Regions from separate parts of the Homo sapiens genome. Here region 2 is linked to region 1. Evidence: fine-mapped QTL for protein levels in blood plasma. A gene starts in region 1. The other region holds a variant in brackets. All regions are shown on one strand. Distances are between the middles of the regions.

What was found. A credible set is the group of variants that fine-mapping cannot tell apart. PIP is the posterior inclusion probability: the model's chance that the variant is causal. The UK Biobank Pharma Proteomics Project read protein levels with antibody pairs (Olink). The fine-mapping took linkage between variants from a reference panel, not from the people measured, so its PIPs are less certain.
Region 2: its variant is the best candidate, but not a certain one, in a credible set for the plasma level of the IL31RA protein (UK Biobank, PIP 0.57).

The regions. Positions count from the first base shown.
Region 1 is chr5:55,848,160-55,853,698 of GRCh38, reverse strand. IL31RA (interleukin 31 receptor A) reads right to left here and starts at 2,342. Exons shown (of 15, transcript NM_139017.7): 1 at 2,066-2,342. The coding sequence starts at 2,128.
Region 2 is chr5:55,906,875-55,911,874 of GRCh38, reverse strand. IL31RA (interleukin 31 receptor A) reads right to left here. Exons shown (of 15, transcript NM_139017.7): 10 at 4,415-4,516; 11 at 3,464-3,610; 12 at 1,203-1,343. Among named protein-coding and RNA genes, the nearest start is that of IL31RA, 58 kb to the right of the region's middle. RefSeq lists an enhancer at 1-1,057. The variant G/A (reference allele first, on the strand shown) is at 2,108.

The sequences.
Region 1 (5,539 bases):
AACAACCAGTTCAAGGAGAAATTCACGTGGTGGGTCTGACCCATAATTTCACTGAAGAAAACAGAAAAAGACTTTTATAAAGTAGAAAAAGATGATCAAACTATCACTCTTCTAAATGAATTAGCACTCACCTTCATGTATCAGGGGATGTTCCACAGATGTTCTGCTGGCTCAAAGGATTTGCATCAAAGGCAACTCCACCTCCCACAGCACAAGTCAGGACAGGAAGAACAATCTGGACTTTAATTTATCCACACTAAGATGTGGGAGTGTTTCCACTCTGATTGTCTGCGAGCTTTTCTTGTGCTTTTAAGCCCAGCCCAAGTCAAAGTGGCACTTACCCACTTATGCTGGGAAATGGATTGCATTATTGTTAACTAAAAACAAAAGCAAAAACAAAAACACTCAACTCTACAAAAAAAAAGGATCATCTGAAAGACCAGAAACAACTAAAAGAAGTGACTAACTTTTAAATTTTCTCTTCAGGAAGTCCTTACAAATGTGGTAATAGCTGAAACAGTGAGAGTATCTTTAGCTTGAAATGAGAAATACGCAATCATGTTAACTGTCTTTAGACAATGAAGGAGATGAAGGAAAGAAAATAATGGTAGCTGACTCCAAAAAGAGGCTTACAAATTCTTATTTACGTCTAAAGGAAAACATACTGAACTGAGAAACCAGAGCTTCAGTTTAGCCACTAGTAATAATCATCATTAATAATTTGTGGAGCTCTTACTGTGTGTCAGGCATAGTACTAAGAACTTCACATTAATTATCTCTTTTAATCTTCACAACAATCCTATAACATCAGGAGTATTTTTATTCCCACTTTATAGGCAAGGAAACTGAGGTCAAAACAGTAAGCAACATGTCCTACATGGGTGGTGGAGCCAAGACTTGAACCAAGGCAGCCTGACTCTCAGTTTCCTAGCAATCAAAGGTTCAAATTAGATTATTTCTAGGATCCCTTCTAGTACCACAATTTTGCAACCGTTTGTAATGGACTGACAAAACCACGAGAAATAAATAGACCGGGGAAGAGATTATGATGCAAAAGGAAAGAAAACTAAGTTTTAAAACAAGCTATGCTTTCCAGCCCCACATTTTAATTTTTAACCCATTCCCCATCTTCCTTAGGCAATGTTCCACTAAGTAGGAGGAATAAGGGTGAGAAAGAGAGCTAGTCTTTTACCTAGAAGATTATAATTATGAGATATTTAAAATTCCAGCCAGGCGTGGTGGCTCACGCCTGTAATCCCAGCACTTTGGGAGGCTGAGGCAGGTGGATCACCTGATGTCAGGAGTTTGAGACCAGCCTGACCAACATGGCAAAACCCCATCTCTACTAAAAATACAAAAAAATTAGTCAGGCATGGTGGCAGGCACCTGTAATCCCAGCTACTCGGGAGGCTGAGGCAGGAGAATCGCTTGAACCCGGGAGGCAGAGGTTGCAGTGAGCCAAGATCGTGCCATTGTACTCCAACCTGGCGACAAGAGTGAAACTCTGTCTCAAAAAATAAATAAAATAAAATAAAATAAAATTCCATTATAATATACTATAGAGAAAAGCTAAATGCTAGCACAAAAATAGCAAGCATTTCTTGAATTTATTCAACCAATACTTAGTAAACACCTATTACATGCATAACAGCTCACTAAAGGTGTTGTGTATTAAATAGAATTCTGGTTAAGACAAGACCAATTGAGCATATACATTTATCTCTACTCTCTCAGGAAACTCCACAAAAATTATGGCAAAGATATAGAACCACAAGACAAAACAAATGGGAAGAGGCAACAGCAAATAAGAGATGTCAACAAATCTTTGGAAAAAGAGAAATGAATCAAGCCATAACTGAACTGGTAAAGATGAGAAAGCAGAAACCTAGAAATGCCTAATAAGGTTGCCAACAATAAGCAAACATAATTATGCCACGGAATCTCATACGGCTCAGGATTTGAGACACTAGGTAGGTAAAATCAACCCTCATTACTCACAGCTTCCTTATTTGTGAATTCACCTACTTGCTAGGAATTATTTGTAACCCCCCAAATCAATACTCACAATGTTTTGCGGACATTCACAGACACATGCCGTGGTGAAAAACTTGAGTTGCCTGATGCACATTCCCAGCTGAGGTGGAACAAGCTGACACTCTGCCTTCCTGTCTCAATTTTCATACTGCACACACATGTCTTTTCATGGTCTATTTAGTGCCATGCTGGTTATTACTATTTTTTTTTGCAATTTTTTGCCTTTTATGAGTGATTTTGCTGTTTCGAATGCCCCCCAAGCAGAGTGCTGGAGTGCTGTCTGGTGTTCCTAAGCAGAAGGAGGCTGTGCCTCATGGAGAAAATATGTGTGTTAAATAAGCTCTATTCAGGCATGAGTCATAGTACTGTTATTAGCCATGAGTTCAATGTTGATGAATCAACAATGTATATTAAATAAGGTGTCTTTAAACAGAAACACACACAAAACAAGGTTATGTATTGATTAGCTGACAAAAATGTTGTGACCAGAGGCTCACAGGCACCTAACTCTATATTTCCCCCACAGAGAATAATTCAGTATTTTCTTTTTTTCTTTTTTTTTTTCTTCTGAGACAGAGTTTCGCTCTTGTTGCTTAGGCTGGAGTGCAATTGCGCCATCTCAGCTCACCGCAACCTCCACCTCCCGGGTTGAAGTGATTCTCCTGCCTCAGGCCAGCCTCCCATGTAGCTGGGATTACAGGCATGCGCCACCAAGCCCAGCTGATTTTGTATTTTTAGTAGAGACGGGGTTTCTCCATGTTGTTCAGGCTGGTCTCAAACTCCTGACCTCAGGTGATCCACCTGCCTCGGCCTCCCAAAGTGCTGGGATTACAGGCATGAGCCACCACGCTCAGCAGTATTTTCTAATTCAGTGTTTGTGGCGATTTTATTGAACATAATTGCCAGGAATAATGAAGGAATAATGAGAATTGACTATACCTCTGAAACAAAAATCATAAGATTGGTTGAAAATCTGAAAAAGAAATAGACTACCTAATCCTAACCCCACAAAGCCAAATTCATTAAATTTCTCCCATCCCAACAGCAGATGGGGGGAAAAAACTTGAAAGAAAGGCAATGCAGAAAGCAGAATATTTTTTAAAAGAAATATTAGTTAAACCTTCATAGAAAATAAGAAAAAATGTTGTACCCACAAAATATGAATAGGATGCTATGATAAAGGCATAATTAGAGAACAAGAACTCTTGGAGATTCAAAATATGAGAGCTGAAGTCTAAAGACTAGAAAATAAAGTTGAGGAAATCTTCCAGAAGATAGAAGAAAAGACAAAGAGATGAAGAATAGCCAACATCTGACTACCAGCAGTACAGAAGCACAGAACAGAGGAATGGAGGGAAAGAAATAATGAGAGAAGTGATACAATAAAATTCCCAAGAATTGAGGAACATTTGTTTCCAGATTGAAAGGGCCCACTGTAAACAGCATAATAAATGAAAATAAATCTACACTGAAGTACAAAACAGTGAAGTTTCAGAATATCAAGAATAAACAGAAAAAAAATGTTTCCAGATAGGAAAAAAATAAGTCACATACAAAGGATCAAGGATGAGAATGGCTTTAGACTTAATAACAAAACCAGAAGTTAGAAAGCAATGGATCAATTCCTTTATAACTCTATTGGAAAATTATTTCTCACCTAGGATGCTCTACCCATCCAAATGATCCATCAGAAAGAAAGGTAAAACAACGTTCTTGAAACTGCATTTTCCAACATGCCAAGTTTCAAGAACTTTATCTCCCATGTGACCATTTTCGAGATGTTATTGAAAAAAGTGACTACAAAAACAAGAGCATAAGCCAAAACAAAAAGGAAAAATGGGCTCCCAAAAACAGCAAATTTCAAATAGAAGAGAGAGAATTCCAAGAATGGTGGCCAAGGGAGATCCCAAGATGATAAGAGTACAACAGGCTTGGAGAGCAACTAGCCCAAGTGAGTGGCAGACGCCAGGCTCAAGGAGGGATATTTCCAATGAAAAAATACATGGAGGGGACCCAATGGATCTGACAGATGTTGAAACTTGAAAAGTTTTGCAGCACTCTTAGAAAGTTTGGAGAAGGATGAGTAATCGGCTCAGTAAGTTAAGGAAACCAAAAAATGGCATAATTATTAATTCCAGGAAAAAGAAAATGTTATATAAGAAAATATATTTAAAGTCCAATATGTGGCTCAGCTATGAATAACTATAGAGTCACAACAATGAAAACATTAATGGATTTAACAAAAGTTATAACTATATTGAAAGAATGGGGTTAGGAAAGGATGCACATATGTGTGTGTTTGTGTATAGAATTGGTAAGAGACTTCAGTCTTTATCTTCCATAGTTAGTAAGAAGTCAATAGATAATGTCTAAAATTGAAAAAAAAATTAAATTGCAGTATAAACATGTTCTTTATAGATATGGAAATAAACCCCAGAAAAAAAAAAAGCTAAAAGAAATGAAAGTGATTTTTTCTGTGAAGAAAGTTTGGCAATGGGAAGGGATATAGCACTGTATTGCTGTTATTCGTGGTAAGTCTTAGAGTGCCACTTGAATGTTTAAACTATGTATATGTATTACTTTGATAAAATGTAAAATTATATTTTAAAAGTGAATTAATAGGTGAATTAACAAGTGCTCTCCCCATGAAGGGAAATAGATGTCATTCTCAGTCTGACACCTCAACCATTTCCTCCTAGGAGGAGCAATGTGATTTGTTGGGTGGTTAGAGAGTCTAGATGAGAGGTCTTTTGTTTACTTGTTTCATTTTTTTCTTTCTTTATTCCTTGTTTGTTTTGAAAATAAGAAAGTCATAGAAAGAGAGTTCTAAGATAGATAAATGGATTGACGGATGGATAGTGTTTCCCATTTGAAGTGGGCTTTGAGTTGCAGCCCCTGAGGCAGCCCCCCCATCTCACACCTTGTTAGTGGAAAACATAGTAAAAGCATTTTAGATGCCTTTAATCCGGGAATTCCACTTTTAGATATTTATCTAAAAGAAATAATCATGGAGTTTTCCAGAGATATAACATCAAGGATGGTCATCATGGCAATGCTTATAAAAACCAAAACAGATAAATTGTAATTTGTTTTAAAACCCAGAGCTTTTTGGAGAAAAGGTTGATTTCAGGACTTGGGCAACGAAAATACAAAATGTGCCTGGAGTATCTTGTAGTACCAGATAGTAAGGAAATGTTGAAAAAGCAAAAGGATAGAGCATGTCAAAGGGACACAGGAACCAATCTGAAAGAACTTCCAGCCAAAGCCAGAACAATTTGAGCAAAAAAGTGAATAATGTATACTGGATTATAATTCAAAGTATAAAATAAATATACATTACTTCATATTAATATTAATAAATGATTGCATAAATAAATGTGGAAGAAGAGACTAATTTTCCTTATAGAAAAATTCTAAGTGATCTGTAGATACTGCTATCTTTAAGAAGTGAATGAAGTTTAATTCCCTCTCTTCTCCCACCTTCAGGGTATGCTAGACTTGATGA
Region 2 (5,000 bases), 58 kb before region 1:
GAGGCTTTCAAGAATATTTCAAGCAATTTTTAGCTTGCCTCAGTTATTGCAAAAACTTGGCAGTGTTCCTTCATTTTTAATCTAAAAAGCGTTGTTCATTCTTTAAGACAGTTTTAGTACGTACTTAAAAATCAAATCTCTGTCACTCAAGGACTTAGCAAAATTAATATATATCTGTTTCTCCCATTCTCCTTCCTTCTTTCTGCTTCATCCCCCTCCTCATTCCATCTGCCTGCCTCTAAATATCTCCCTTAACCAGCCATCATATGAAGCTACATTTTATTTTACATTATTTGTTGTCTCTAGTAAATTTTTCTTGCTATTTTTTAATGTAAAAGTGGGTAAGTTAAATATATCATATGTCTTTTTGCTCAAAAAAAACCTCCACAAATGATGAGGTTAAGCCCCTTCCTATGGGTCAGTAGTCCTGAGTTAACCAAGGTTTTCCCTTGAAGGCCCTGTTGTACAGTGATATGGTTTGGCTGTGTCCCCACCCAAATCACATCTTGAATTGTAGCTCCCATAATTCCTACATGTTGTGGGAGGGACCCAGGGGGAGATAATTGAATCATGGGGGCAATTTCCCCCATACTGTTCTCATAGTAGTGAATAAATCTCATGAGATCTGATGGTTTTATAGGGGGAAATCACTTTCACTTGGTCCTCATTCTCTCTTGACTGCCACCATGTAAGATGTGCATTTCACCTTCCACCATGACTGTGAGGCTTCCCCAGCCACGTGGAACTGTGAGTCCATTAAACCTCTTTTTCTTTATAAATTACCCAGTCCCGGGTATGTCTTTATCAGCAGCGTGAAAACAGACTAATACATACCGTAACCTATAACATGCAGAAACTGGTGACTATGAACGGGGAGACAGCCTTGAGATGGGAGCTGGTTTGGTGCTAAGACTGAAGTTGGCATTAATTTGACACCTCCTCCTCCAGATGATTTGTGGCTGCCCATGAGGAACGACCAAAATGACCAGCATTTCCAAATTCGGCTCTCAACTTGCCTGCTCTTCCCTCCCATCTCCTCACCTATATGCTTTCCAGGAAGGTTGGTGAACAGAGAGCAGGATGGCAGGGCACTAGGCACTGCCCTTTCATTTGGCTTCCTCCAGCTTTTGGCAGATGTCATTTCTCTCTGATGTAAGGTAAACGTGAGGGAGAGGTACCTAAGGCTTGAAGGAAATACTCACTGAATGACAATGTCTTGAAATTTATGCTGGTCCCGTTGGTTCCCCCAGCACTGGTGCTGGCCATGACCTGAACAATGTAAGAGGTCTTTCGTTTCAGGGACTCCAGGCCGTACTGCAAGATGCTGGAATTGACTGTCTTGGCTAAAGGAAAAATACAAAGGTCAAACACCACAGCCAAACCAGACTGAAAATTGTGTCCCAGTAGCACCAAAATAAGAGCATTGGAACCTGTGCTTCCAAGCTCAGCTGTCTCATATTCTGACCCCTATTCATGTCCTGCTTAAATATCAAGATGGATTAAGGACCTCAATATAAGAACTAGAACTATAAAAATTCTTAGAAGACAGCATAGGATAAATCTTCACAACCTTGAATTTCACAATGGTTTCTTTGATATGACACTAAAAACACAAACATCAAAAGAAAAAAATAGATCAAGCTGGACTTCACTAAAATTCAAAGTTTTTGTGCATCAAAAGATAATATCAAGAATGAAAAGATAATCCAAAGAATGGGAGAAAATATTTACAAATCATATATCTGATAAATAACTTATATCCAGAATATATAAAGAACTCTTATAAATTCAATAACGAAAAGATAACCCAATTTAAACATAAGAAAAAAGATGAAAAATACACTTCTCCAAAGAAGATATACAAACGGGCTGGCCGGGCGCAGTGGCTCATGCCTGTCATCCCAGCACTTTGGGAAGCTGGGGCAGGCAGATCACCCGAGGTCGGGAGTTCGAGACCAGCCTGACCAACATGGAGAAACTCCATCTCTACTAAAAATACAAAATTAGCTGGACGTGGTGGTGCACACCTGCAATCCCAGCTACTTGGGAGGCTGAGGCAGGAGAATCGCTTGAACCTGGGAGGTGGAGGTTGCAGCGAGCCAAGATC[G/A]TGCCATTGCACTCCAGTCTGGGCAACAACAGCAAAACTCCGTCTCAAAAAAAAAAAAAAGATATACAAATGGGCAAAAACTACATGAAAAGATGCCCAACATTATTAGTCAGTAGGGAAATGCAAGTCAATGAGATAACCACTACATACCTACCAGGACAGCCATAATAATTTTTTTTAATGAAAAATAACACGTATTGACAAGGATGCAGGGAAATGAAAACTCTCATACATTGCTAGTAAAAAATGTATAGTGTGGAGTAGTCACTGTGGAAAACTGTTTGGTGGCTCCTCAATAAGTTAAACTAGAGTTACAGTATGATCCAGCAATTCAACTTCTAGGTATATGCCCCAAAGAACGAAAAACACAAACTCAAACACATATTTGTACACAGCAGCATATGTTCGTAGCAGACATCTGTTCATAGCAGCCCTATTCACAATAGCCTAAAGGTTGAAACACCCTAAATGTTCATCAACTGATGAATGGATAAACAAAATATGGAATATCCACACAATGGAATATTATTCAGCCATAAAAATGAATAAGTACAAAATCATGCTATAACATGGGTGAACTTTGAAAACATGCTACATGAAAGAAGCCAGACACAAAGACCACATATTTTATGATTCTATGTATATGAAATATCCAAAATAGGCAATCCATAGAGACACAAAGCAGTTTGGTAGTTGCCAGGGGCTGTGGGAGGAGAGGAATGGGGAGTGACTAATGAATGGGTATAGGGCTTCTATTTGGGCAGAAATAGAAGAGTTCTGGAAATAGTGGTGATGGTTGCACAATATTGTGAATGCTTCTAATGCCACTAAATTGTACACTTTCAAATGTTTAAACTGGAAAAATATTTTACGTGTATTTTACCATAAGAAAAAATTATTTAGCCTAAGCAAGAATCCAAGCCTTGCCCAGTATTTAAGATGTCAGGAGATAAGGTGGACTGAAAAACAAAAGCATGATTTGGCAGGGGCAGTAGAAGTCATGGTGACAGGGTCTGTTCCTCCTCACTCTTTAAGCCAGGCACGCCATTCCTGGGAATGATGGTCGGGGAGCTCCCGGGAGGTCAATTCAGGGCCTAACCAGGACAAATTATAACAACTCCTTCCATTTCCTCAGGACTCTCCTCTCAGGTACTGTCACTTCACTCTCATTTAACCCCCAAAACCCCAAAAGGTGGGTGCTCTTGGCCCCATTTTCAGAGAGATTTAAAGAAGCTAAGTGATTCATGCCAGGTTGCAAGTCACAATGAGATGGGGGAGCCATGCCTACAACAGGTCTATCCATAGCATCTATCTGGGGCTTGGGGTTTTTTTCCACTTCGCTATGGGCGTGCTTACAGAATCCTTTTCCACCTTCAGCTTGGTAAAAGATGGTGTAGTTGCAGATGATACCCTTTCTCTCACTCTTGGGAATCTCTTTCCATGTGATCGTGACCGTCTTCACGCCAATGTTCTCCACCTTGGTCTCAGGACCTTCTGATGGAACTGGAAAGGACAGAGGGATAAATGATAATCACTGAACCGCACTCCAGGAGATCGTTCCCCCACAAAGGCCCTGGCCAGTACTCAGACCAAACCATAGTGCTGGAGGCGACGGGTGAGGGTTGAGTAGGGAATTGATGAATCAGCTTGTTTGGGAAAATTGTTTTCTAGAACCATCTCTCTTAAGCAAGAAGAGAAGTGGCAACAAGACCACTTGAAAAAGTCCTTTCTCATAGATGTCTCCAATTTGGTACCCAGCTTTTTCATTCATATCTGTAAAGTGTAGTTATTATCAAATAGTTGAAGAATATGGCTCCATAGGCTACCTTTGAGTGGCAGAAGATGTTTTCCAGTGTTGAATCTGGAAGACATGAACTTCCAAAAAGATAAAAGTAAAGCTTGAGCAATTCACCAGTAAAGCCTTTGCTTATTGCTACATAATTAAAAATAATTTTTTAACATCCCTAGCTTAGGATGAACTCTAGGCTCCCTGATGTGGTCTTAATTCAGTGTTATTGCTGGTAGCAGCTCTATTTGCACTGTTTATTTGTGACTTTGGGCAAGTTATTTCACCTCTCTGAGTTTTAATTTTCCATTTGTGAAATGAGGGGATTGGACTCAATGATCTCTAATGTCTACCCCAGCTTCAGAATTCAGCAAATTCATAACATACAGAGCTCACTACAAGATGAAGCACAAATGAGCCCTAAGATGGCTGGGAATGAGCTACAGGCACTTGCAGCCTTATCGGCATGTGGGACAGGTCACACTGTTTCCTTTTCCCCACAGGGTCTTGTCCATTCATACCGCCTTCTTTGGCATAAGCCTGGATGGAATATGGCTCGCCAACTTTGTCATGCAACATTGGATACACAGAGATGTTATAGCACCAGAAAGGTTTTAATTTATCTGTGAAAAAGAAAGAAAAAAAAGTGTAAGTGCAGAGCACGGCAGAGTGGGGGGAATACTAGACTAAGAGTTATGGCCAAACACTTATAGAAGATATTCCATTTCTCTACAGTTTCCACCTCTGGAAAATAAACAGGTTAGGTTGAATGGTCTCTAATATCTATTGCTTTTCTCAGATTTTCTAACTAATTCTTATTTTTAAATTTAGCTTTTTAGCTTTTTATTTTTTGGAGGCAGGGAATCCCCAGGTCTGTTCTGACCAAATACTATTGCAGCAGAGAGATCCATAGGATCGCTGAACACGCTGCCTAATTAAGTTCTAGAACAACATATCATCACCCTGTGGATCTCAAACACTGTGACTTCTATCTCCTCTACTTGCCTGCATCCCTGCCTGTGTATTATTCTTAATATGGATGTTTGAAGCATTAAGAAATGATTGTGGTGACAGGATTAAAAGGGTAAAGCCTCATTAGGGAGGCTG